3 separate regions of the Homo sapiens genome follow, and all the other regions are linked to region 1. Evidence: fine-mapped expression QTL. A gene starts in region 1. Each other region holds a variant in brackets. All regions are shown on one strand. Distances are from middle to middle. Region 1 holds the start of TRIAP1 (TP53 regulated inhibitor of apoptosis 1). Region 2 overlaps GCN1 (GCN1 activator of EIF2AK4). Region 3 overlaps GCN1 (GCN1 activator of EIF2AK4).

What was found. PIP is the estimated chance that this variant, and not a neighbour inherited with it, causes the effect.
Region 2: its variant is fine-mapped to the expression of TRIAP1 in whole blood (INTERVAL, PIP above 0.99).
Region 3: its variant is fine-mapped to the expression of TRIAP1 in whole blood (TOPMed, PIP above 0.99).

Annotation. Positions count from the first base shown.
Region 1 is chr12:120,441,852-120,450,177 of GRCh38, forward strand. TRIAP1 (TP53 regulated inhibitor of apoptosis 1) reads right to left here and starts at 4,533. Exons shown (of 2, transcript NM_016399.3): 1 at 4,375-4,533; 2 at 2,113-3,104. The coding sequence starts at 4,521. The coding sequence ends at 3,021. It overlaps GATC (glutamyl-tRNA amidotransferase subunit C), which reads left to right and starts at 4,593. Exons shown (of 4, transcript NM_176818.3): 1 at 4,593-4,710; 2 at 4,806-4,978. The coding sequence starts at 4,630. RefSeq lists enhancers at 3,715-4,562, 3,874-5,073, 4,288-4,837, 4,435-4,729, 4,563-5,408.
Region 2 is chr12:120,177,277-120,185,602 of GRCh38, forward strand. It overlaps GCN1 (GCN1 activator of EIF2AK4), which reads right to left. Exons shown (of 58, transcript NM_006836.2): 3 at 7,548-7,611; 4 at 6,836-6,967; 5 at 6,293-6,401; 6 at 1,576-1,674; 7 at 1,349-1,483; 8 at 408-476; 9 at 171-279. Among named protein-coding and RNA genes, the nearest start is that of GCN1, 13 kb to the right of the region's middle. RefSeq lists an enhancer at 6,931-8,130. The variant C/T (reference allele first, on the strand shown) is at 5,199.
Region 3 is chr12:120,164,375-120,172,700 of GRCh38, forward strand. GCN1 (GCN1 activator of EIF2AK4) reads right to left here. Exons shown (of 58, transcript NM_006836.2): 15 at 5,795-5,947; 16 at 3,834-3,926; 17 at 272-347; 18 at 1-121. Among named protein-coding and RNA genes, the nearest start is that of MIR4498, 13 kb to the left of the region's middle. RefSeq lists an enhancer at 2,558-2,607. The variant T/C (reference allele first, on the strand shown) is at 4,607.

The DNA.
Region 1 (8,326 bases):
CACATTTCTGCTTATTGGCTTTTCTGTGGAATTAAAACTATCCTGCTTTAATGGATAGTAAATGGTAGTAGTAGTAGTTACAAAACCACTCTGAGAGGGCAATTATTATTATTATTATTATTATTATTTTTTTTTTTTTTTTTTTTTTTTTGAGATGGAGTCTCGCTCTGTCGCCCAGGCTGGAGTGCAGTGGCGGGACCTCGGCTCACTGCAAGCTCCACCTCCCGGGTTCACGCCATTCTCCTGCCTCAGCCTCCCAAGTAGCTGGGACTACAGGCGCCCGCCACTACGCCCGGCTACTTTTTTGTATTTTTAGTAGAGACAAGGTTTCACATGTTGGCCAGGCTGGTCTTGAACTCCTAACCTCAGGTGATCTGCCCACCTCAGCCTCCCAAAGTGCTAGGATTACAGGTCTGAGCCACTGTGCCTGGCCAGAGCTGGTTTATTTTATTTTATTTTATTTTTTGAGACAGAGTTTCGCTTTTGTTGCCCAGGCTGGAGTGCAATGGCATGATCTTGGCTCACCACAACCTCCACCTCCCAGGTTCAAGCAATTCTCCTGCCTCACCCTCCTGAGTAGCTGTGATTACAGGCATGTGCCACCACACCTGGCTAATTTTTTGTATTTTAAGTAGAGATGGGGTTTCTCCATGTTGGTCAGGCTAGTCTCAAACTCCCAACCTCAGGTGATCTGCCCACCTCAGTCTCCCAAAGTGCTGGGATTACTGGCGTGAGCCACCGCGCCCAGCCAGCTGGTTTATTCTTAAGGCTCAAAGGAACACTTTCGTGGTAAGGTTCAAGAGGCAACAAGGTATTTCATATTATATTACATTAAACTGGTAACGCAAAAGTAAGGCATATACAGTACGGAATAGAGAATCTCATTGTCTTTGCCATTTTGTAATAATTAACGGAATAGAGAATCTCATTGTCTTTGCCATTTTGTAATATTACAGCCTGCACTTCTGAGTCCCTATAGAGCTGTTTTGGTTGTGGCCAGTCTGAGTTTAGGACAGATGCATTATACTTCAGCTTGCTGCCTGGCCTCCCTTGGCTGGGTTCCAAACATCTTTTATAATCCTTGGATAATGGACCCTAGCCAGTCATAAAATATAAATGAAGAATGTTTTGAAATGACATTAAGGACAAGTCACATTAAATATGATGTAGCAATTGGTAAAGTGGAGAAAAGACAATAGAATTAGGGCCTTCTATAAATCAAGTTTCTTGGTTTATTTTTCAGACAGGGTCTTGCTGTGTCACCCAGCCTGGAGTGCAGTGGTACAATCACAGCTCACTGCAGTCTCCACCTCTCAGGCTCAGGTAATTCTCCCACCTCAGCCTTTAGAGTAGCTGGGACTACAGGCACACACCACCATACCCAGCTAATTTTTTTGTAGAGACAGGGTTTCGCTATGTTGCCCAGGCTGGTCTCAAATTCCTGAGCTCAAGTGATCCGCCCATCCCAGCTTCCCAAAGTGTTAAGACTACAGGCATGAGCCACCATACCCGGCCTGTAATTCAAGTTTCATACTACTTTGGGTATCTAATAAAACCAAATTACTCAATTAATTGTGGGGATTACGTGACATTCTGAGGTAAGTAAGTGCTCTCCTGATCCTTTTTTGGTACCGTAGTGTATTTGTATAGCCTATTGTGGAAATTTTAGAAATCAGTGAGGTTTTGGCTGGGTGCGGTGGCTCATGCCTGTAATCCCAGCACTTCGGGAGGTCAAGAGTTCAAGACCAGCCAACATGGTGAAACCCCATCTCTACTAAAAATACAAAAACTAGCTGGGCATGGTGATGCATGCCTGTAATCCCAGCTACTTGGGAGACTGAGGCAGGAGAATCATTGGAACCCAGGAGGTGGAGTTTGCAGTAAGACAAGATTGCGCCACTGCACTCCAGCCTGGGTGACAGAACCAGACTGTCTCAAAAAAAAAAAATGTGAGGTTTCTGATTGCCATACTGTACCACCTAGCTTAAGACAAGTCACTTTTTCTTCACCTTTAAGTTACAAAACACAAAACTCTCCCCACTGTATATATGAGGTTTGTAGGGTAACAGGGTAATAGTTCCATAAAATGCACTGAGTTCCAGAGGCAAATAATGATAGAAACTAAATGTTACAATTTATTCCATCTTCAGGATTACAGACATTACAGGGCAGGATGAGTAAACAAGGCAAATGAAGCGAGCACCTTCAGCTTCCCCCCTACCCCGACATTTAACCAGATGCAGCATTTTGACATTTTTAGGATATGCAGGTTGACAATTCACTGACTTGGGTTGAGAGCTGGCAATAGCAGATCTTTGCAATTTAGGTTCTTCCTCCACAGCTATTCCAAGTATCTTAATTCCTGAACTGCACACTGAGAGCTCTGAAATGGTGTTCACTGCAACATTCTTGCAGCTTTCACATCTTAATCTGACACCTCTTGTGAAGGCAGGGAACTGTGTTAAAAGCTGTCTTCCTCTTTGCTAATCCAGGCCACCATCAATCTTAACCATTAGTTACTATATAAAAATAAAAGTGTGCTCAAAAGCACTCACTGAAACTGTTGTGCCCAGATCCCTTTTCAGAGCATTAGTTCCCTGAGAGGAAAAAAAGAGGTCCTAACCAATTGCTTTCATAAATAGTGACCCCAGTACAGTGTATATGTCTTTTGCAGCAGAAATCAAGAGGTCAGGCAGCTCTGCTCATCCTGACTAGTTTATCATCGTTTGCATACAAGGTATATTTATGTAAAGCTGATTCCACGCCAAGTATTGCAACCATAATCTCAAAAAAATTGTTCAATTTTAGCACACAGTTCCTGCAAGATACCACAGCAGGTGAGAAATCATCTCAAAGAGTTCATCTTTTACAACTGAGAGGAAAACATCGAAGGAGGAAATAAAACTCCTCTCTCCTAAGTTCCTCATCAAATCTGATGGCTATGTTCACAGAGTTAGTTGACAAAAATCCAGAGTCCTCAATTTCTGGACTTGCGAAATCCTTCAAGGTGACTGTCAAGGTCAAGAAGAATTTTCAGGCTTTTCTTTGCCATGGCCCATGAACTCCAGTCCTTCAATAGGAATCTCTTTCTCCTTTATTGCTTTCTGGTAGGAGGAGAAAACACATTATAAAGACCTACATGAAGCTTAAGTTGCAAGCTTTGTAAATAAAATATGACAGTACAAAAGTAAAATCAAGCTGATTATAAAGACTTATAACCATGATTCAAACCACATACTTTTTAAAAAACAAGTACCGGTCAGGTGTGGTGGCTCACGCCTATAATCGCAGCATTTTGGGAGACCAAGGCAGGTGGATCACTTGAGGCCAGAAGTTAGAGACCAACCTGGCCAACATGGCGAGACCCTGTTTATACTAAAAATACAAAAATTAGCTGGGCATGGTGGCGCATGCCTGTAAGCCCAGCTACTCGGGTGGCTGAGGCATGAGAATAGCTTGAACCTGGGAGGCGGAGGTTGCAGTGAGCTGAGATTGTGCCATTGCACTCCAGGCTGGGAGACAGAGTGAGACTCTGCCTCAAAAATAAATAAAAACCAGAAGTACCATAATGAATAAATCAAGTGTAAGACCTGAGGGAGACTGGAAAAGGAGTTGTGAGGGAACCGTTAAAATTAAGTGAAATTTGAAAAATAATCATCACTTTGTGTTAGTGAAAGACTTAGGTTCAAATCTGGGTTCCAGGACTTACTGGCTATGTGACTAACTGTAAATGGGATGAAGACAGCAACTACCTCGGGGAATTGCTGTGAGGATGTGTTGGGTTAACTTATTGGAAGTGCTTTGCCCGGTGCTGTTCTTAACAATTCAAAGCAGTTCCACATCCATTGGGCCAGAATAAACATTTCCTGGCTGCAGTTGCGGGGACTGGTCAAGAGAGAGAAACAGGCTAACGAAGGGTTTATAACAACAAAAAAATGTGACCCTCCAGTCTGAATTCTGAAGTATAATCCCGCCCAGACCCCAGCAGTAATAGTGGAAAAGTGCACCACCTGCGAAAGAACCAAGGAAACCTGATGCTAGTGAACTCGGATTAATCACTTCCTATTTCTGGGTGTTAGTTTTTTATGTATAAAATATGAGTAACTATGCCCACCTTGCGAGTTTAGGGTGAACACCAAATGAACCAAAGGATGTGACTGTGCTTCTTGAAAAGCACTGCCCCAATATTTGTCATTCGGAGAGACACCCAAGTGGCCTCGGTGGTGATGGTAGGGGAGCGAGCTCCTGCCACTGGCCTCACTGCGACTTTTCTCCACCCTTCCAGTCCAGTCCCAATCCCCGTAAAATACGATGAGTGTGGTGGGACACAGCGCCGAGAATGCAGGGCCTGGGAACAGAGGCGGGAGGGCTCACCTGAACACACTGCTGGTAGCGCTTGAAGAGGTCGGTGCACGGGTCCCCGGAGCTGTCCCCCTTGAGAAATTTCTCGGCGAACCAGCGATTGAAGCACTGGTCGTACTCGCGCTTCATGTCCGTGCATGCCTCCCCCACACTGTTCATGGCGACAGTGGTGGCGGCGGCGACGACGGCGCACTCTGATGTCATCACTCTCAGGCGCGTCGCTCGGCGTTACGCGCGGGCGCACTGCGGGGGCCAAGGAAGGAAGAAATGTGGTCGCGGTTGGTGTGGCTGGGCCTTCGGGCCCCTCTGGGCGGGCGCCAGGGCTTCACCTCCAAGGCGGATCCTCAGGTAAAGGCCAGGGCCATCTAGGCGGGTGGCGGAGCAAGCCGGGAGGCACTTCGGAGCGCCGGTGACCCACACTCCCCGCCTCATCCCTCCTCCAGGGCAGTGGCCGGATCACGGCTGCGGTGATCGAGCACCTGGAGCGTCTAGCGCTTGTGGACTTCGGCAGCCGCGAGGCAGTGGCGCGACTGGAGAAAGCTATCGCCTTCGCCGACCGGCTACGCGCCGTGGACACAGACGGGGTGGAGCCCATGGAATCGGTCCTGGAGGACAGGTAAACTCGCGGCTGCAGCCCCGAAGCCTTGACCGTGGCCCGTTCGCAGCCGTTTAATGTGACGATTAGCGAACAGTTTTCCAGGGGGTTAAAGAGTGTTAGCAAGATTCAGGAACTTGCCCACAGTCACCTCGCGAGTCAGTGGCTTCACTCTTCCCCTTGTTCATTACTGATGCTCTCGCTAGTGTAAGTGGAAACAAAACCCGAACTGCTAATCACTGCCTTTGTTTTTTTTTTTGTTTGTTTGTTTTGTTTTTTTTTTTTTGAGACGGAGTCTCGCTGTGTTGCCTAGGCTGGAGTGCAGTGGCTCGATCTCGGCTCACTGCAACCTCCGCCTCCCGTGTTCAAGCAATTCTCTGCCTCAGCCTCCCGAGTAGCTGGGATTACAGGCGACTGCCACCAGGCCCGGCTTATTTTTTTTGTATTTTTAGTAGAGACGTGGTTTCACCATCTTGGCCAGGTTGGTCTTGAACTCCTGACCGTGATCCACCCGCCTCGGCCTCCCAAAGTGCTGGGATTACAGGTGTGAGCCACCGCGCCTGGCCTAATCATCGCCTTTAAGGCCCTACTCCATAGAGTCCCTACCTACTCACTCCAACGTACTCTTCTCAGTACTCTCCTTGGCTACCTTGACTGCTTCTCCAGCAAGACAAGTTCTTTTCCTCTCTAGATCTCTGCACTGGCCCTTCGTTTTTTTCCTTCCTCTCAGTATTTGCATGGCTGCCTCCCTCTTGGCACAGGTCTCAGCTTATCTTCTCAGAAAGGGCTCTCCTAACCACTCCAAATCCCTTCTCCCCTTCTAGTTAGTAACTCATCCTATTGGGTTTTTTCCCTAACATTTTAATGGACTTTTGTTCATTTGTTATATCTCTTTTATTAAAATGTGAGCTCATTATGTAGTTACTGTTTTATTCCTGCCTTGAATTTTTATTTTATTTGTTTTTGAGATGGAGTCTCACTCTATCACCCAGGTTAGAGTGCAGTGGCATGATCTCAGCTCATTGTAATGTCCACCTCCCAGACTCAAGAGAGCCTCCCATCTCAGCCTCCCAAGTACAGGACCACAGGCGCGTGCCACTTGGCCTGGCTAATTTTTTGTATTTTTGATAGAGACGGGATTTTGCCATGTTCCCCAGGCTTGTCTGGACTCCTGAGCAAAGGTGATCCACCCATCTCAGCCTCCTAAAGTACTGGGATTACAGGCATGAGCCACAGCACCTGGCCGTGTTTGATTCTTTCAAATGTCTTCTCTACTTTGCAATTTTCTTTTTCCTTTGGGACGGGGTCTCACTATGTTGCCCAGGCTGGTCGCAAACTTCTAGACTCAAGAGATCCTCCTGCCTCAGCCTCCCAAATAGCTGGGACTATAGGTGTGCACCACCACACCTGGCTAATACTTAAAATTTTTGTAGAAACGGGGTCTTGCCATGTTGCCCCATATGGTCTCAAACTCCTGGTCTCAAGCAATCCTCCTGCCTCAGCCTCCCACTTCCTCAAGAAAGTTTTTTTTTTTTTTTGAGGTGGAGTCCTGCCCCATCACCCAGGCTGGAGTGCAGTGGCATGATCTTGGCTCACTGCAACCTCCACCCTCCAGGTTCAAGTGATTTTTGTGCCTCAGCCTCCGGAGTAGCTGGGATTACAGGCACCCGCCACCACACTCAGCTAGTTTTTGCATTTTTAGTAGAGACAGGGTTTCACCATGTTGACCAGGCTGGTCTCGAACCCCTGGCCTCAAGTGATCCGCCCATCTTCGCCTCCCAAAGTGCTGGGATTACAGGTATGAGTCACTGCACTGGCCAAAAAAGTCCATTCCTTTTTTTTTTTTTTTTTTTTTGAGACGGAGTTTCACTCTTCCACCCAGGCTGGAGTACAGTGGTGCAATCTCAGCTCACTGCAACCTCCACCTTCCGGTTTCAAGTGATTCTCTTGCCTCAGCCTCCCGAGTAGCTGGGACTACAGGCGCCCGCCACCACGCCCAGCTAATTTTTGTATTTTTAATAGAGACGGGGTTTCACCATGTTGGCCAGGCTGGTCTCGAACTCATGACCTCACAGTCCACCCGCCTCGGCCTCCCAAAGTGCTGGGATTATAGGCGTGAGCCACAAGTCTTCATTCTTTTATACTTAGGTTCTTTTTTTTTTTTTTTAATTGAGACAAGAGTCTCGCTCTGTCGCTGAGGCTGGAGTGCAGTGGCGTGATCTTGGCTCACTGCAAGTTCCGCCTCCTGGGTTCATGCCATTCTCCTGCCTCAGCCTCCCAAGTAGCTGGGTCTACAAGTGCCCACTACCACGCCTGGCTAATTTTTTGTATTTTTAGTAGAGATGAGGTTTCACCGTAGCCAAGATGGTCTCGATCTCCTGACCTCGTGATCTGCCCACCTCAGCCTCCCAAAGGTGCTGATTACAGGCGTGAGCCACTGTGCCTGGCTATACTTAGGTTCTCTACCTGTGGCTCTCGTGATATCCAAAAGGGCTGATTTATACATGCGTTTATACATCTATTTAAGGGATGTGTTGAGTCTCTGCCCCTCTCCTGCTCACCCACCTTCCACAGCATGTCTGTTTTTCCTTATCATGTTCTCAGTGGTTGGCACTGAGTATTCAGTAAATGTGTTTTGTTTTGTTTTGTTTTGTTTTTTTGAGATGGAGTCTCACTCTGTTGCCCACGCTGGAGGCAGTGGCGTGATCTCGGCTCACTGCAACCTCTGCCTCCTGGGTTTGAGATTCTCTTGCCTCAGCTTCCCGAGCACCCGGGATTACAGGCATGCACCACCATGCCTGGTTAATTTTTGTATTTTTAGTAGAGAGGGGTTTCACCATGTTGGCAAGGCTCGTCTTGAACTCCTGACCTCAGGTGATCTGCCTGCCTCAGCCTCCCAAAGTGCTGGGAATACAGCCTTGAGCTGCCGTGCCCGGCCACAGTAAATGTTTAATGAATTTTTTTTTTTTTAGAGACAGAGTTTTGCTCACGTTGCCCAGGCTGGAGTGCAATGGCGCGATCTCAGCTCACCACAACCTCTGCCTCCCAGGTTCAAGCGATTCTCCTGCCTCAGCCTCCCAAGTAGCTGGGATTACAGGTGCACGCCACCACGCCCAGCTAATTTTGTATTTTTAGTAGAGACAGGGTTTCTCCATGTTGGTCAGGCTGGTCTCAAACTCCCGACCTCAGGTGATCTGCCCACCTTGGCCTCCCAAAGTGCTGGGATTACAGGCATGAGCCACCATGCCCGGTCCCAGTGTTCTTTATTAATATCTCTAGGAAAGGAGGGACTAGAAGCACAGAGTCATCAGAATTTCCCCAAGTTATCTAGAGGGTAAATACAAAGAAATATAACCATCATTAATAAGG
Region 2 (8,326 bases), 260 kb before region 1:
ACATAATCGCAAAAGGTCCCCAATCTCTCTCCCAAGGTCCCAACAAGGTAAACAATGAATACATCCCCCTTCCCTCCCCCCTACCACACACACTTCTTGTTGCCAAATATCGAGAATAGAGATATAGGCAACTCATCTCCCTCCCACCATCCTGGTTGACAGCAACCTACTTTCAATAACATTCTCTGGACTCCTCAGTAAGGACTTCTGTATGGTGGGCAGTATCAGATCCTTAAATTCTGAGTGGGACAGGTATCGGAGCAGAGGGGCACAGCTATCCTACAAAGAAAAAGGAATAAGGCACCTAGCCCTCATGGGAACGGACCAAGAAGCAAAAAAGAGTTCAGCATCCCAGAATTGAAAATGGGATCAGTTGTCCAGGTGAGTAACGTCCACCTCTCGCTCACCAACAGGTACTTCGGAGGCTTGACTTTGCTCATCAGGATGTTCTTCATGTAAAAGTCCAGTAGGGCGCTCTAGAGAACACAAAGCTCTGGTTAGATCCTGACATTCTCAAGTATCTCATCACTGGCCTAAGGGGTCCCTCTTGTGAGAGTGCCTCCAAAAAATACAAATCAATGCCCCAAATTTCAGTGTTAAGCATAGAGGTCCCACTGATCACGCAACCCCACTTAAAACCCTTCCACAGCTTTCCATGGCCCCCGGGATAAAGTCCAAAGTCCTTCGTATGGCTTATAAGGTCCTGCCCACCACTCAGCTGGCTGCGTCTCACTCTAACCCATTCCTGCCACTCCAACCCCGCTCGCCTCCTCTCTGTTCCTGCCCACAGGCTGCTTCCTCTGCCCAAAATGCTCTGCCTCACCTCTTGACCTTGCTAATTCCTCTTCACTCTCAAAGTTCCTTCTTTAGAGTGATGTGTTCTCTGACCCACAGCCTAAATCAGGTCCTTCCGTTGTGGAGTCTCACGACTTCTCACACTTTCCCTTTGTAGCACATACTAGTTATAATTAGCTAGACTATCTGTTTAATGTCAGTTTCTCAGACTCAGTTCCATGGGGGCAGGGGTCATAGCTCCCTTACTCGCTGGTGTACCCCCAACACCGAGCACAGTGCCTAGAACATGGCAGCCACTAAATTGGGATGAATAAGTGACTGCATGAACAAGCAAACTATCACCCAAGCCAGAAACAGAAGGGAAACTTTCCAGCTCCTAGAAGTTCATGTATCATGGCAAAAGGCCAGAGTCTCACATGAGAAAACCAACAAGTTTCAGATAAGGTCAACAGCTAGGGTCACCAGGGCAAAGCAGGTTCCCATTCCTTCCCTCCAGCGAGCTCCCAACATCCCCAACATAGCAAACCCACAGTCACTCTGCCTTGGCACTTGCCTTGTGCTGACTGACCACGTCCATCTCCTTGTGACTCGTGCAGAACTGCACCAGCAGCCCCAGCATGCCAGCATAGTTCTGGTTGGGCTCTAGGCTGAGAATGGCTGACAAGTACTGTTCCACCAGCCCGGGGTTCTGAAGAGGAAAGTGCCAGGCAGGTGTTTAAGATGGCAGTGGGGGAGTGGCATGGAAGAAGCAATGCCCACCAGCCCCTGCAGTCCTGTCACCTCTTTCCACAGCTTCGTGAGTTTCTTCACAGCACCATCCACGGCGTGCTTGTGGGAGCCACCCAGCACCTCCAGCAAGAGCAGGCACTGCACTTCCACCTGCCAGGACCAGGGAAGACTCAGGTCAAGGTGGGACATGAGACTGAGGGTCCCATGGCTCTCATAGCCTGTAAAGACCTCCATCAGACCCTCCAAATCCTGGCTTCATCTCCACTCAGCCTCTCCCACTCAACTCCAGCCAGCTCCTCTTCCCTCCACCCCACACATTTAGTTCTGTCCTTTAACGACACTGTTCCCACTAGTGTTCGTTTAATAAATATTTGGTGATCACCTATTATGAATCAGACAATGAAGGCACAAGGGGAGGAAGACAGACATGGTCCCTGCTTTTTTTTTTTAAGACGGAGTCTCGCTCTGTCGCCAGGCTGGAGTGCAGTGGCACAATCTCGGCTCACTGCAACCTCCACCTCCCGGGTTCAAGTGATTCTCCCGCCTCAGCCTCCCAAGTAGCTGGGACTACAGGTGCGTGCCACCATGCCCAGCTAATTTTTTTTTTTTTTTTTTTTGAGACAGAGTCTCGCTCTGTCGCCCAGGCTGGAGTGCAGTGGTGCGATCTCAGCTCACTGCAAGCTCCGCCTCACGGGTTCACACCATTCTCCTGCCTCAGCCTCCCGAGTAGCTAGGACTACAGGTGTCCACCACCATGCCCACCTAATTTTTTGTATTTTTAGTAGAGACGGGGTTTCACCATGTTAGCCAGGATGGTCTCGATCTCCTGACCTCATGATCCGCCCGCCTCGGCCTCCCAAAGTGCTGGGATTACAGGCGTGAGCCACTGCGCCCAGCCGGTCCCTGCTTTCATGTACCTTAGAATTCAGAGGAAAAAAGAGATATTAAACAAATAAATACACAAATGAACATACAATTTCAGTGAGGTTTAAGTGCCATGCAGGTAAAGAATTAAGGGTCCTGTTTCATTTACTTCTTATCTGCCTTGACCTGTCCTTCATTAATTCCACAAATACTTACTGACCACTGCATGGCAGGCTCTATGCTGAGCACTGTGAATACAGAAGTGCATCTTGATATGGGGATTCGAACTGCATGGAGCTCACACCGTCCAACCCAGATTGACATACATAATAGGTCCTTGACTAAAAAAATCTCAGAGGCTGCCAGGCCTAGTGGCTCACACCTGTAATCCCAGCACTTTGGGAGGCCGAGGCAGGCAGATCACCTGAGGTCGGGAGTTCAAGACCAGTCTGACCAACATGGAGAAACCTCATCTCTACTAAAAATACAAAATTAGCTGGGTGTGGTGGCGCATGCCTGTAACCAAGCTACTCGGGAGGCTGAGGCAGGAGAATTGCTTGAACGCAGGAGAATCGCTTGAACCCAGGAGGCAGAGGTTGCGGTGAGCCGAGATCACGCCTTTGTACTCCAGCCTGGGCAACGAGAGCGAAACTCCATCTCAAAAAATAAAGGCCAGGTGCAATGGTTCACGCCTGTAATCCCAACACTTTGGGAGGCTGAGGCAGGCGGATCACAAGGTCAAGAGATCGAGACCATCCTGGCCAACATGGTGAAACCCTGTCGCTACTAAAAATACAAAAATTAGCCGGGTGTGGTGGCAGGCGCCTGTAGTCCCAGCTACTCAGGAGGAAAATCGCTTGAACCCAGGAGGTGGAGTTTGCAGTGAGACGAGATAGCGCCACTGCACTCCAGCCTGGTGACAGAGAAAGACTCTGTCTCAAAAAAAAACAAACAAAAATCTCAGAGACTTTATGTGCCATAAATGCCCAAGGTCACTAGTGAGTCGTGTGAACTGCCACCCTCAGAAAACAGATATGCTTGTGGCCGGGCGCGGTGGCTCACGCCTGTAATCCCAGCACTTTGGGAGGCTGAGGCGGGCGGATCACGAGGTCAGGAGATCGAGACCATCCTGGCTAACACGGTGAAACCCTGTCTCTACTAAAAATACAAAAAAAATTAGCTGGGCATGGTGGCAGGCGCCTGTAGTCCCAGCTACTCGGGAGGCTGAGGCAGGAGAATGGCGTGAACCCGTGAGGCGGAGCTTGCACTGAGCCGAGATTGCGCCTCACTGCACTCCAGCCTAGGCGACAGAGCGAGACTCCGTCTCAAAAAAAAAAAAAAGAAAAAGAAAAAGCAAGCAAGCAGATATGCTTGTGGAAAGCAATGCTGATAAATTCCATTTGCATGTATACAAAATGGCATATGTACAAGGTTATTCTTTGCAGAACTGTTAGTAACAATAAAAAACCGTAAGCAACAGAGGACTCCCTATATATAGCATAGTATAGAAAGGATTACTGGCTGGGCGTGGTGACTCACACCTATAAACCCAGCACTTTGGAAGACCGCAGCAGGTGGTTCCCTTGAGCCCAGGAGTTCGAGACCAACCCGGGCAACAAAAGAAAACCCCATCTCTAAAAAAATACAAAAATCAGCCAGGCATACACCAGCATGCCTGTAGTCCCAGCTACTCAGGAGGCTGTGACAGAAGGATCGCTTGAGCCCAGGAGGTCAAGGCTGCAGTGAGCTGAGATCATGCCACTGTGCTCCAGCCTGGGTGACAGAGCAAGATCTTTGTCTCAAAAAAAAAAAAAAAAAAAAAGAAGTCTGCAGAATCATGGTGTGTGTATAAAAAAATTTTTTAATACATTTTTTTAAAAGTAGGCTGGGCACGACCAGGTGCAGTGGCTCATGCCTGTAATCCCAGCACTTTGGGAGGCCGAGGCGGGCGGATCACCTGAGGTCAGGAGTTCGAGACCAGCCTGACCAACATAGAGAAACCCCGTCTCTAGTAAAAATACAAAACTAGTCGGGCATGGTGGCACATGCCTGTAATCCCAGCCACTTGGGAGGCTGAGGCAGGAGAATCGCTTGAATCCAGGAGGCAGAGGTTGCGGTGAGCCGAGATCGCGCCATTGCACTCCAGCCTATGCAACAAGAGTAAAACTCCGTCTCAAAAAAAAAAAAAAAAAAAAAAGTAGGCTGGGCACAATGGCTCATACCTGTAATCCCTGCACTTTGGGAGGCTGAGACAGACGGATCACCTGAGGTCAGGAGTTTGAGACTAGCCTGGCCAACATGGTGAAACCCCATCTCTACTAAAAATACAAAAATTAGCCAGGTGTGGTGGCATGCACATATAGTCCCAGTTATACTCAGGAAGCTGAGGGTTGAGAATTGCTTGAGCCTGGGAGGCAGAGGTTGCAGTGAGCCGAGATTGCGCCACTGCATTCCAACCTGAGTGACAGAATTACACTCTGTCTCTCAAAGAAAACAAAAAAAAAAAAACAAAAAAAACCACTCAGTGCAGATAAGCCAATGAGCTTGCCCCTTCTTACAAGGAGGCTTTTGGTAACAATGACACCCATTCCCTGAAGCAAATCCAAGAGAGTCCCAGCTCACAATACGTAATCCTTGACCCTCAAGGTTTCAGCATTCTAATCCATCATCAATCAATTATACTGACAGCCATTCCATGTTTGTCCCCAGAGGTGCGCTGGATAAGCTCCCAGGGATGCAGCCCTCTATCTAACCAGCAGGCTGCTTCATGGAGCGGTACTTGTGTTTCCTAAGGCCGGTCATCACTGGCA[C/T]CTACCTGCCTGGGACTCTCCAGTTTCCACAGTCATCTCAACCCTCAACGAAACCTGGCTTTGCGACAACTCTTTGAGGTGGACAGGGTGAGTAGTATTTTCTTTCCCACTTTGCAAATGAGGAAATGGGCTCAGAAGTTAAGTGACTCAGCCAAGTCTCATGGACAAGAATCAGATCCAAGGCCTGGCAAAGTGGCTCACACCTATAATCCCAACACTTTGGGAGGCCAAGGCAGGCGGATCATCTGAGGTCAGGAGCTCAAGGCCAGCCTGGCCACCATGGAAAAACCCTGTCTCCACTAAAAATACAAAAGAATTAGCCAGGTGTGGTGGCAGGCACCTGTAATCCCAGCCACTCGGGAGGCTGAGGCAAGAGAAACGCTTGAACCCAGGAGGCAGAGGTTGCAGTGAGCCAACACCACTGCACTCCAGCCTGAGCAACAGAGCAAGACTCCGTCTCAAAAAAAAAAAAAAAAAACTACTCCTCATGACCTACACTAAAAAACCACTCCTCATGACCTACACTAAGCCTACCCAGGCACATGTCTGCTCTGCTCACCTCCCAACCTGGTGAGCAGACATGGGGAAAGAAAAAGAAGAGAATATGGAAGGAGCAGGTAGAGAATGGAAAGAGGGAATTTAAGAACCAAAACCAAGACAAAAAATCCATTCCATTCACCAGTTCAACACTGAAATCAAACACAGGGAATGGAATGATCAGCCAGAAAAACACCAAGAGGATTTACACTATGATATTTTCTAGTCTACTTGATTTTTGGCTGTCTTCCCAACTCTGGCCTGTCACGGCTTCCACACATGCCATGAAATCAGGGGCCTCATTTCTGTTGTGCATCACTGCATTTCTAGTGCCTAGCACCATGCCTGACAGAGAAGCTCCAAAATGTCTAATACACCAAACAATGTGATTATGCTGCACTCATGGCCATCCACCAAAGCCACACACCTCGGGACAACTCAGAGTGTCTGGTCACCCAGCACCCAGAAAAGCACTTGGCACCAAGAAGGTGCTGAAACATGCTCTAACTCCTGGCAGAAAGCTGACCCTTGCTACTTCAGAGACACAGGGAACCTACCAGTTTGTTCCAGATGTCTCCTTGTCGCTTGGCTCTCGATGGAAAGACAATGCGCACCAGGAGGCAGGTCCAGGTCAAGGCCAGCAAGGCGGCAGAGCCACTGCTCTTACTGCAGAGCAGAGTTGGGGATGAGTTCAGAGCAGCAGCCTCCACCTTGAGGACGAACACTGTCCCTAAGGCCCCGCCTGGTAATGCAGGACCCTCCCTTCACCTCATGGAACAGAACTTGAAACAAGTTCCCCACAAACCATCTGTGGCAATTCAGGACAAGAAGTCCAGGCTTCAGTGGCCAAACTCCCATCTCTTGGCACTGACAACTATAAAAACAAACAGATGGCTTCCACCATTAGGGGCCTGGTGGGCAACTGGTTCCCCTCAAAATGGCCTTGCTTCCACTGTTTCCCAACCCTGCTCCTCGGGAAAGTGGTTTTCTCCACTAAGCTTGCTATCCTGGCTCCTCCCTCTGGTGCACAGTCAACTGCATCAGCTTCTCCTGAGCAGGACTGTACCAATTCTCAGGGGGCCACAACTTTTACCTCTTACCTGGGAACACCTGCTTTGGAGCCTATACCAGAAGACTGCAGAGAGTGTAGAAGGTTCTTAGCAGTGGCTTCTGGCTGGGCCTCAGCCAACTGCTGGATGGCTGCCTGCAAGGCCCTGCGGGAGGCTGCATCTCTAGGGGGAGAGGCAAAGGAAAGGGTGAACATGCAGACCTCAGGCAGAGGCAGGGGCAAGGCTGCTCAGGCCATACACTGGTCTTTCTCAGGAGAAACTGATCACACCATATTCCAGTGGATAACAGAGAAGGGATTAGGAAATAACTAGATAAACTCACCTCCTCCTAGAGTTCTAAAAGTATCTCATAAGGGCAAATAAGCCATTGAGTGTGTAAGGGCAGCACCTACATTTATGGAGCAGTTATAAGGGTCTCAAAGTAGGCCAGACGATTTAACACACATGACTAAATGGCAGCATAAACACATTGACCACTATGGCACAGCAGGCAACTGTTCCAGGCACCTCACGCTTACTAACAACCACCCATGAGATAGAGAATGGCACCATCCCCATTCTGCAGACAAGGAAACTGAGGCACAGAGAGGTTAAGTAACTTGCCCAGGATCTAATGGCTAGGATGTGACATAGCCCAGATTTGGCACCAGGCAGTCTGGCTCTAATCTGGGCTCTAACCACTACTCTAAATCCCCTCTCTGTACAAAGTGCTCCACATATGGGGCCTTTGGCTGGGACTCACCTATATCGATGCAGAGTCAAGCAGAACAATTTGCAGAGCCCCTTCACTGCTCCCTCTGGAAGATCTGAAACCAGAGATTACACAGACAGCGGTCAATAAAAATCACTTGGTAAGCCGCTGGAGTCAGGTATTCTGCCCAGACATGATCTCAGCCCACTGGACACTCCCCATATATTTAAGACCTTCCTCCCCAAGAGGAAAAAGCAACAACAAAACAGGACTCTAGGAAAATGCCTGGTACAGAAAAGCTTTGGGTAGACATTTGCTAAATGAACGAAACTAAGAAAATAAAAGTGGCCTCGAAACCTCACATGCCATCAAGAGGAGGTTCAGGAGTGCTGGAATGGTTCTACTTCTTGATCTGGGTGCTGGTTATACTGGTGTTTAACATGTGATGATTCAGTGAGCTGTTCCATTAGGAGGCGTACCTTTCTTCACATACATTCTAATAAACGGTTTAAAAAACAGTGCAACACTGAAGTACTATGAGGGACCAGAAAAGGGAAGAACACCTATAACTGGAGTGTTTCTGAAAGTCTGAAGGACACATAAGCTTGGCCTATCAGATTAGTAGGCTCTGGAAAAATGGAAAGAGAGGGAGATACATGTAGAGTGCAGGGTTAAGAAGGCATAATACCTATTCAGAACACATGAAGAAGAAGAGAGGACTAATAACACCCTAGCTCTTAGTGCTTACAAGATGCCAGACCCTGCTCTAGATCATTCATACACATTCACTCATTTAATCCATGTAAGGTGGGCAGTGTTATTAAGGCCCC
Region 3 (8,326 bases), 280 kb before region 1:
TCCGTGCGCCAGCTTAAAGCCCCCAAGAGAGGACAGCAGCTTCCGAACTGTCTGCTGAGCCTGCCTGCGGACGTGCCAGGTGCGGCTCAGGAGCACCGCCACCAGAGCCCGGTGGTACTGCCTGCAAGCACAGGGACAGACAGGTCTGGGGGAAGGCCAAGAGCAGGGCTTTCCACAGCCAACCCTTCCACCTGCCACACACCCTTTCTCGGGTTCCTGCCAGCCTTTGCCTCATTTGGCCCAAAAGAAAAGGTAAGCCAGCCTCACGTACTGAACTTTGTTGCCAGTGAGTCTATGCGGGTGGTCAAGGAAAAGTCTCTCTGTCAGATGCAACACAGTACACAGGGCTTGGAGGGAAGAAAAGGAATGGAAGTGTTTTTAAAATAGTTAAGTGTACACATACATACCAATACCCAGAAATAACTGGAATGAACTGAAAATTAACACCAAAATATAAATGTGATTATCACTCGAAGTGAAATTACAGCTTGTTTTTTTTTTTTTGCTTATGCACACATGTATTTTGGAATCAGTAAAGTATATACTATTTTTATTTATTTTATATATAATATACACACATATACACATATATACACATATATATACATATACATATATACACATATATACACACACACACACACACACACACACACACACACATATATATATATATATTTTTTTTTTTGAGAGACAGTCACGCTCTGTCGCCCAGGCTGGAGTGCAGTGGCACGATCTCAGGGCTTACTGCAAGCTCCGCCTCCCAGGTTCACACCATTCTCCTGCCTCGGCCTCTCGAGTAGCTGGGACGACAGGCACCCGCTAATTTTTTTATATTTTTTAGTAGAGACTGGGTTTCACCATGTTAGCCAGGATGGTCTCGATCTCCTGGCCTCGTGATCCACCTGCCTCAGCCTCCCTAAGTGTTGGGATTACAGGCGTGAGCCACTGCACCAGGCCAAATTTTGTATTTTTAGTAGAGACGGGGTTTCACCAGGTTGGCCAGGTTGGACTTGAACTCCTGACCACAGGTGATCCACCTGCCTCGGTCTCCCAAAGTGCTAGGATTACAGGCGTGAGCCACCGCACCTAGCCTATTTTTACTTTTTTTGAGACAGAGTCTCGCTATGTTGCCCAGGCTACAGTGCAGTGGTGCAGTCTTGGCTCACTACACCCTCCGCCTCCCAGGTTCAACTAATTCTCCTGCCTCAGCCTCCTGAGTAGCTGGGATTACAGAAGCCCACCAGCAAGCCTGGCTAATTTTTTTTTTTCTATTTTTAGTAGAGACGAGGTTTCACCATGTTGGCCAGGATAATTCTGAACTCCTGACCTCAAGTGATCAGTCCACTTCAGCCTCTCAAGGTGCTAGGATTACAGGCATGAGCCACCATGCCAGGCCTATGTATTTTGTTTTCGTTGTTGTTGTTGTTGTTTTGAGACGGAGTCTTGCTCTGTCACCCAGGCTGGAATACAATGGTGCAATCTCGGCTTACTGCAACCTCCGCCTCTTGGGTTCAAGAGATTCTCCTGCCTCAGCCTCCCGAGTAGCTGGGATTACAGGCACCTGCTACCACGCCCAGCTTATTTTTGTATTTTTATTAGAGACAGGGTTTCACCATGTTGGCCAGGATAGTCTCGATCTCGACCTCATGATCTGCCCGCCTCGGCCTCCCAAAGTGCTGGGATTACAGGCGTGAGCCACCGTGTCCGGCCCCAGCCTATTTTTTTTTAATAATTAAAAATTACGGCCAGGCACAGTGGCTCACGCCTGTAATCCCAGCACTCTGGGAGGCCAAAGCAGGCAGGTCACCTGAAGTCAGGAGTTCGAGACCAGCCTGGCCAACATAGTAAAACCCCGTCTGTACTAAAAATACAAAAATTAGCCAGGTGTGGTGGTGTGCACCTGTAGTCCCAGCTACTCAAAGAGGCTGAGGCAGGAGAATTGCTTGAACCCGGGAGGTGGAGGTTGCAATGAGCAGAGATTGCACCACTGCACTCCAGCCTGGGCAACAGAGTGAGACTGTCTCAAAAAAAAAAAAAAAAAAAAATGCCTGATCCGGTGGCTCACGCATGTAATCCCAGCACTTTGGGAGGCCAAGGTGGGCGGATCATGAGGTCAGGAGACCAAGACCAGCCTGGCTAACACTGTGAAACCCCATCTCTTCTAAAAATACAAAAAATTAGCCAGGCGTGGCGGCATGCACCTGTAGTCCCAGCTACTCAGGAGGCTGAGGCAGGAGAATGGCGTGAACCCGGGAGGCGGAGCTTGCAGTGAGCTGAGATCGCGCCACTGCACTCCAGCCTGGGCGACAGAGCGAGACTCTGTCTCAAAAAAAAAAAAAAAAAATTACTAAGGCCAGGCACGATGGCTCATGTCTGTAACACCAACACTTTTGGAGGCTGAGGCAGGAGAATTGCTTAAGCCCAGGAGTTCAAGGTCAGCCTGGGCAACATGGTGAAACCCCCGTCTCTTAAAAAAAAATACAAAAATTAGCCAGATGTGGTGGTGTGCACCTGTAGTCCCAGCTACTCAGGAAGCTGAGGTGGGAGGACCACCTGAGACCAGGGAGGTCGAGGCTGCAGTGAGCCATGACTGTGTCACTGCACTCCAGCCTGGGCAACAGAGTGAGATCCTGTCTCAACAACAACAACAACAACAAATTACTATGGAGTTATAAAAAGAGGCCGGGCATGGTGGCTCATGCCTGTAATCCCAGCACTTTGGGAGGCCGAGGCAGGTGGATCACCTGAGGTCGGGAGTTCGAGACCAGCCTGACCAACATGGAGAAACCCCATCTCTACTAAGAAAAAAAAAAACAAAAACAAAATTAGCCTGGTGGTAGTGGCACATGCCTGTAATCCCAGCTACTCAGGAGGCTGAGGCAAGAGAACCGCTTGAACCCAGGGGGAGAGGTTGCGGTGGGCTGAGATCATGCCACTGCACTCCAGCCTGAGCAATAAGAACGAAACTCCATCTCAAAAAAAAAAAAAAAAAAAAGAATGATGAAGTTCATTATATACTGATATGGACTCATTTCCAGGTCTAGAAAGCACAGTACATACGGCAGGCACACTACCATTTGTGTAAAAAAGGTACAGAACAAACATATACAGGTATTTACTTGCATATATATAAAATATCAAGGCTACAGAAGAAGCTAATAAAATTGGTTATCTATAGCCGAGGAACTGGGTAGCCAGAGATCAAAGCAGGGGTATAATTTTCAATGTAGACCCTCTTGTATCTATTTTTGAATTACATTAGTCTATTTCCTTTTCAAAATTTAGCTAAAAATTTTTCTAAAACCAGGAAATGACTAACAGTTGTAGCTCATTAATGGGATGTTGCGATTTATGAGTCAAACGACTCTTCAAATCACCAATTAGTGGCAGACACTCCTAAGGCAACGTAGAATATTAAACACATATTTAAAATTCAACTGTTCCTTTTCTGCCAGGATAGAAACCAGTAGTTTTTGTGTCTCTTGGTGGGGGAGTAGAGCCTGCCAGACTCCACAAGAGCTTCTCAGCTGCCTTAACACAAGAAAACCTCCGAGACAGCACCAATTACCCAATCAGCTATAATTACAGCTCATGTCGTAGCTCCACAGCCATTACTGCTCTGTCTCCACACATCTCCCAAGTCCCATTTCCCTAACCTTATGTTCCCTACAGGAATGAATTTATTCCCACAACAGCTAAGCTGTTGGCCAGATCACTCTGGCCCAGGTTTTTGCAGACCTGACTGGTTGGTCAAGAAAGGGTCCTCTCTGAAGATTTTCCAAAGAGACTTTGCCTCAATCCCGAGTTCAACTAAGCATGGAGTAACTTACCATCCTCTGAAGCCATGACCAGGAATTTCTCAGAAGTGAAAACCTGCTTTTTCTCATCCACAATCAACTGCCAGAAACTGCTCAGTTTGGCCTCTGCAAGAAACAAAAGGTTACCCCACGACGCAGCTCACCACATCCCCCAGAGCTGATCTACTCCATCCTGAAGCTGCTGGGGTGGGCTTTGCTGACAAACCCTCCTCTGCAGCAGGAGGCTCAGTGCTCTTCCATTTGGGGAACTGACCTCAGTCCTTCTGGTATCACCTCCTGTACGAAACTCTTCGGTGGCTCTCTGCTGCCTACAGGATCCTAGGTGAACTGCTTCTCATCCGGAATTCCCATCCACCCCAGGCGCCAAGCTGGAATACCTGAGGTTTACAGACTCTGGCTTTCCCTGCCCTTCCCTGACTGGGGCTGTTTGGACTCACACTGGGCCATCCCTTCAGGATAATGAAATCCTTCAGAGGCTTCAGGGTACCAGTTCAAATGCTTCCTCCATGAAGCCCTTCCCAATACCCACCCCCCCAACTAAAAGCAATCTCTCCTTCAAAACTGCTCTAATGCCGCATTTTGTCTTAAGCTACGGATATATTTCTGTATTTCCTCGCGCCTACTGTGAAGTAAGCACCCTGAAATTTGCTGAAGAAGGTCATGTTCATCTTAGCATTCCCCCAGGTAGCCCAGTGCCTTGCATGGCCACAGTGAGCACACGATATTACATGAGGAGAGCTGAGCTCCATTCCTAACCAAAGGAGTTAAGTTCAGGTGTGTCCCAG[T/C]GCAGAGATTGGGAGATGAAATAAAGAAAGCCTGGCCGGGCGCAGTGGCTCACGCCTGTAATCCCAGCACATTGGGAGGCTGAGGTGGGTGGATCACAAGGTGAGGAGATTGAGACCATCCTGGCTAACACGATGAAACCCTGTCTCTACTAAAAATATAAAAAATTAGCCGCGCGTGGCGGCGTAGCGCCTGTAGTCCCAGCCACTCGGAAGGCTGAGGCAGGAGGCGGAGCTTGCAGTGAGTCGAGATCGCGCCACTGCACTCCAGCCTGGGCGACAGAGCGAAACTCCGTCTCAAAAAAAAAAAAAAAAAAAGAAAAAAAAAAAAGAAAAGAAAGCCTGAAATACGATGTAGCCACAAAAAATAATGAGAAAGCTCTTTCTGATGTACTGATTTGGAATCATTTCGAAGATATATTATATATAGTATATATATTATATATTATAAGTAATATGGCATATAGCGTATGTTCCCCAGCATGTTCAATTACATAACACACTATGTCTGGACATAAAATTGGTAATACTGTTTTTTCTTTCTTAGACAAAGTCTCACTGTGCCACCCAGGCTGGAGTGCAGTGGAGCAATCCCAGCTCACTGCAACCTACGCCTCCTGGGTTCAAGCGATTCTCCTGCCTCAGCCTCCCGAGTAGCTGAGATTACAGGCATGCGCCACCACACCCAGCTAATTTTTGTACTTTTAGTAAAGACGGGGTTTCACCATGTTGGCCAGAATGGTCTCGAAATCTTGACTTCGTGATCCGCCTGCCTCGGCCTCCCAAAGTGCAAAATTGGTAACACCGTTTACAGAGGGAAACTTAACGGCTACGGGAAAAGACAGGGCTAAGGGGAAGCTTCTCATGTTATATCCTTTTGAATTTTGTACTGTATGAATGTATAACCAACTGAAACAAACAGTCCCAATACTAAACCCTGGTCCATCTAGGTATCATCTACAAGCCTGTGTAGCACTGGAGCAACAGAATGAAGGAGGACAGTGACACAGTCCCCTGACTGCATTCCCACTGCCCATGCAACCATGAGGTTCATCCTGCAGATGACAAGCAAACCTGTGGCTGATCCAGTGTGGTCAGGACCAAGCTAATCCTGAACATCAAGACACACCTCCCAAGGACTCTTGTCAGAGGCCCCTGTCTCTACCATCCTAGACACCTCTGGACTCATACCAGCCTGTGAGTCAGCCACTGACAACTTTAAGAGCAACAAGGCTGCGGCAACCCCTTCAGTGATGGTGGGAACCTGAGTGCTTTGGGAGGCTGCCTTCTCCACTGTCTGGATGAGCAAGGGCAGTAAGTCCAGGGCCTGCAACAGCGTGTCACCTGTGGAGAGAGGACAAGCACCTTAAAGGACATCCTGATCCTTGGAAATGACAGGACTGAGAAAGGATTTATCTAACCAGCTGTGAACCAGACGACTAAAACCCTTCAGTTAATTTTTCAAATATCTCAAAAAGAAGTGAAGTGAAATCAAAACTTAAATCAAACTCTACAGCCACAAAATTAGAGGGAGAAAGATAATCCTTATGGCCAGGTGCGGTAGCTCACGTCTGTAATCCCAGCACTTTGGGAGGCCGAGGCGGGTGGATCACCTGAGGCTGGGAGTTCGAGATCAGCCTGACCAACATGGAGAAACCCCGTCTCTATTAAAAATACAAAATTAGCTGGGCGTGGTCCAGTTATTCAATTGATGGATAAGCAGAGACATTAGGTGTGTTGCTCAAGGTCACACGGCTAGTTGAGGCAAGTCAGAGCCACCCTCAATCCTGTCAATTCCCATCTGGTACTCTTCCCCCATACAGATGACCTTCGGACCCAAATTCTAAATTTGGGTCCAAATCTGCTGACCTCTGAACTAAACTCTTTTAAAAAAAAAAGGAAGCCAAGCACAGTGGCTCATGCCTGTAATCCCAGCACTTTGGCAGGCTGAGGCGGGGGGGATCATGAGGTCAGGAATTCCAGACCAGCCTGACCAATATGGTGAAACCCTGTCTTAGCCGGGTGGGGTGGTGCACGCCTGTAATCCCAGCTACTCAGGAGGCTGCAGCAGGAGAATCGCTTGAACCCAGGAGGCGGAGGTTGCAGTGAGCCGAGATTGTGCCATTGCACTCCAGCCTGGGTGACAGAACGAGACCCCATCTCCAAAAAAAAAAAAAAAAAGAGAAACCAGTTAAAACTATAGTTTGGCTGGGCACGGTGGCTCATGCCTATAATCCCAACACTCTGGGAGGCTGAGGCGAGCAGATCACCCGAGGTCAGGAGTTCAAGACCAGCCTGGCCAACATGGCAAAACCCTGTCTCTATTAAAAAATACAAAAATTAGCCAGGCATGGTGGTGGGCATCTGTAATCCCAGCTACTCAGGAGGCTGAGGTTGGAGAATCGCTTAAACCCAGGAGGCGGAGGTTTCAGTGAGCTGAGATCGCACCACTACACTACAGCCTGGGTGACAGAGAGAAACTCCATCTCAAAAAAAAAACTATAGCTCAAGCACATGTTTTCTTCCCCCCTACCCCAACACCTTGGTTTGTTGTTCCATGTTTCCATAGCTACTAAATGGGTACATCAGAACATTTCACAATGAAAGCAGTTTCCCAGATAATGTTTTATACTTGAATCCAAGAAATCTTTATTACAGAGGTTTATTTTCGTTTTGTTTTTAAAAGGTTTATTTTATATTATGTTTATTTTAAAAGCAATGAGCATTGAGTTCTGGCACTCTGCATTCCTTTTTTAAAAAATAAATTAAAAATAAATGCAACGAGCAGAACTAGCTCAAGCTGAAGAGACTAGGTAAAACCAAGTTTTTGCCATCTACAATTCAAAGTCCCACCTACAACTGATGGTCATTCAATGCAGCAATAATGCAAACTGATATATATAGTACATAGACTTTTTATATAATTTTTGGTAGAGACAGAGTCTTGCTATGTTTCCCTGCCTGATCTTGAACTCCTGGGCTCAAGCAATCCCGCTGCCTCAGCCACCTGTGTAGCTGGGACCACAGGCATGTACCACCATGCCCAGCTATTTTTTTAATTTTTTTGTAGAGATGGGGGTCTCACTTTGTTGCCCAGGCTGGTCTCAAACTCCTGGGCTCAAGCAATCCTCCCACCTCAGCCTCCCAAAGTGTTGGGATTACAGGCGTGAGCCAGCTCGCCTGCCTCATAGACTGTTTTTAAGTCATGGATGTGAGTTCACTATATCCCTAAGGCAGCTGAAAATGTATTGAGCGTACATTTCTACCCATGGAAAATCTATGACTTCAATCAGCACTACCTGTGGTTTGAATAAACCTCACAAACCACTGCACAAAGATGATCTATGATTCTGAGCTGGGAGACATATTTCAGAAAAAGATATATTGCTTTCAAATCAGTGCAAAAATCTCTTATGGTCAGATTCTTCTTCCCTTATCATTAAAAGAAATATGTGAGTACAAAGTTCATCAGACAAGACATTTCACACAGAAGGGGGTCCCCTCCCAAGAGGAGGCCCTGGAATCTCCTAGATGTTTCTTTTTCTTTTTTGAGACAGAGTATCACTCTGTCACCCAGGCAGGAGTGCAATGGCTTGATCTCGGCTCACTGCAACCTCTGCCTCCTGGGCTCAAGCGATTCTCCTGCCTCAGCCTCCCGAGTAGCTGGGATTACAAGCACCTGTCATCATGCCTGGCTAATTTTTGTATTTGTGTAGAGACAAG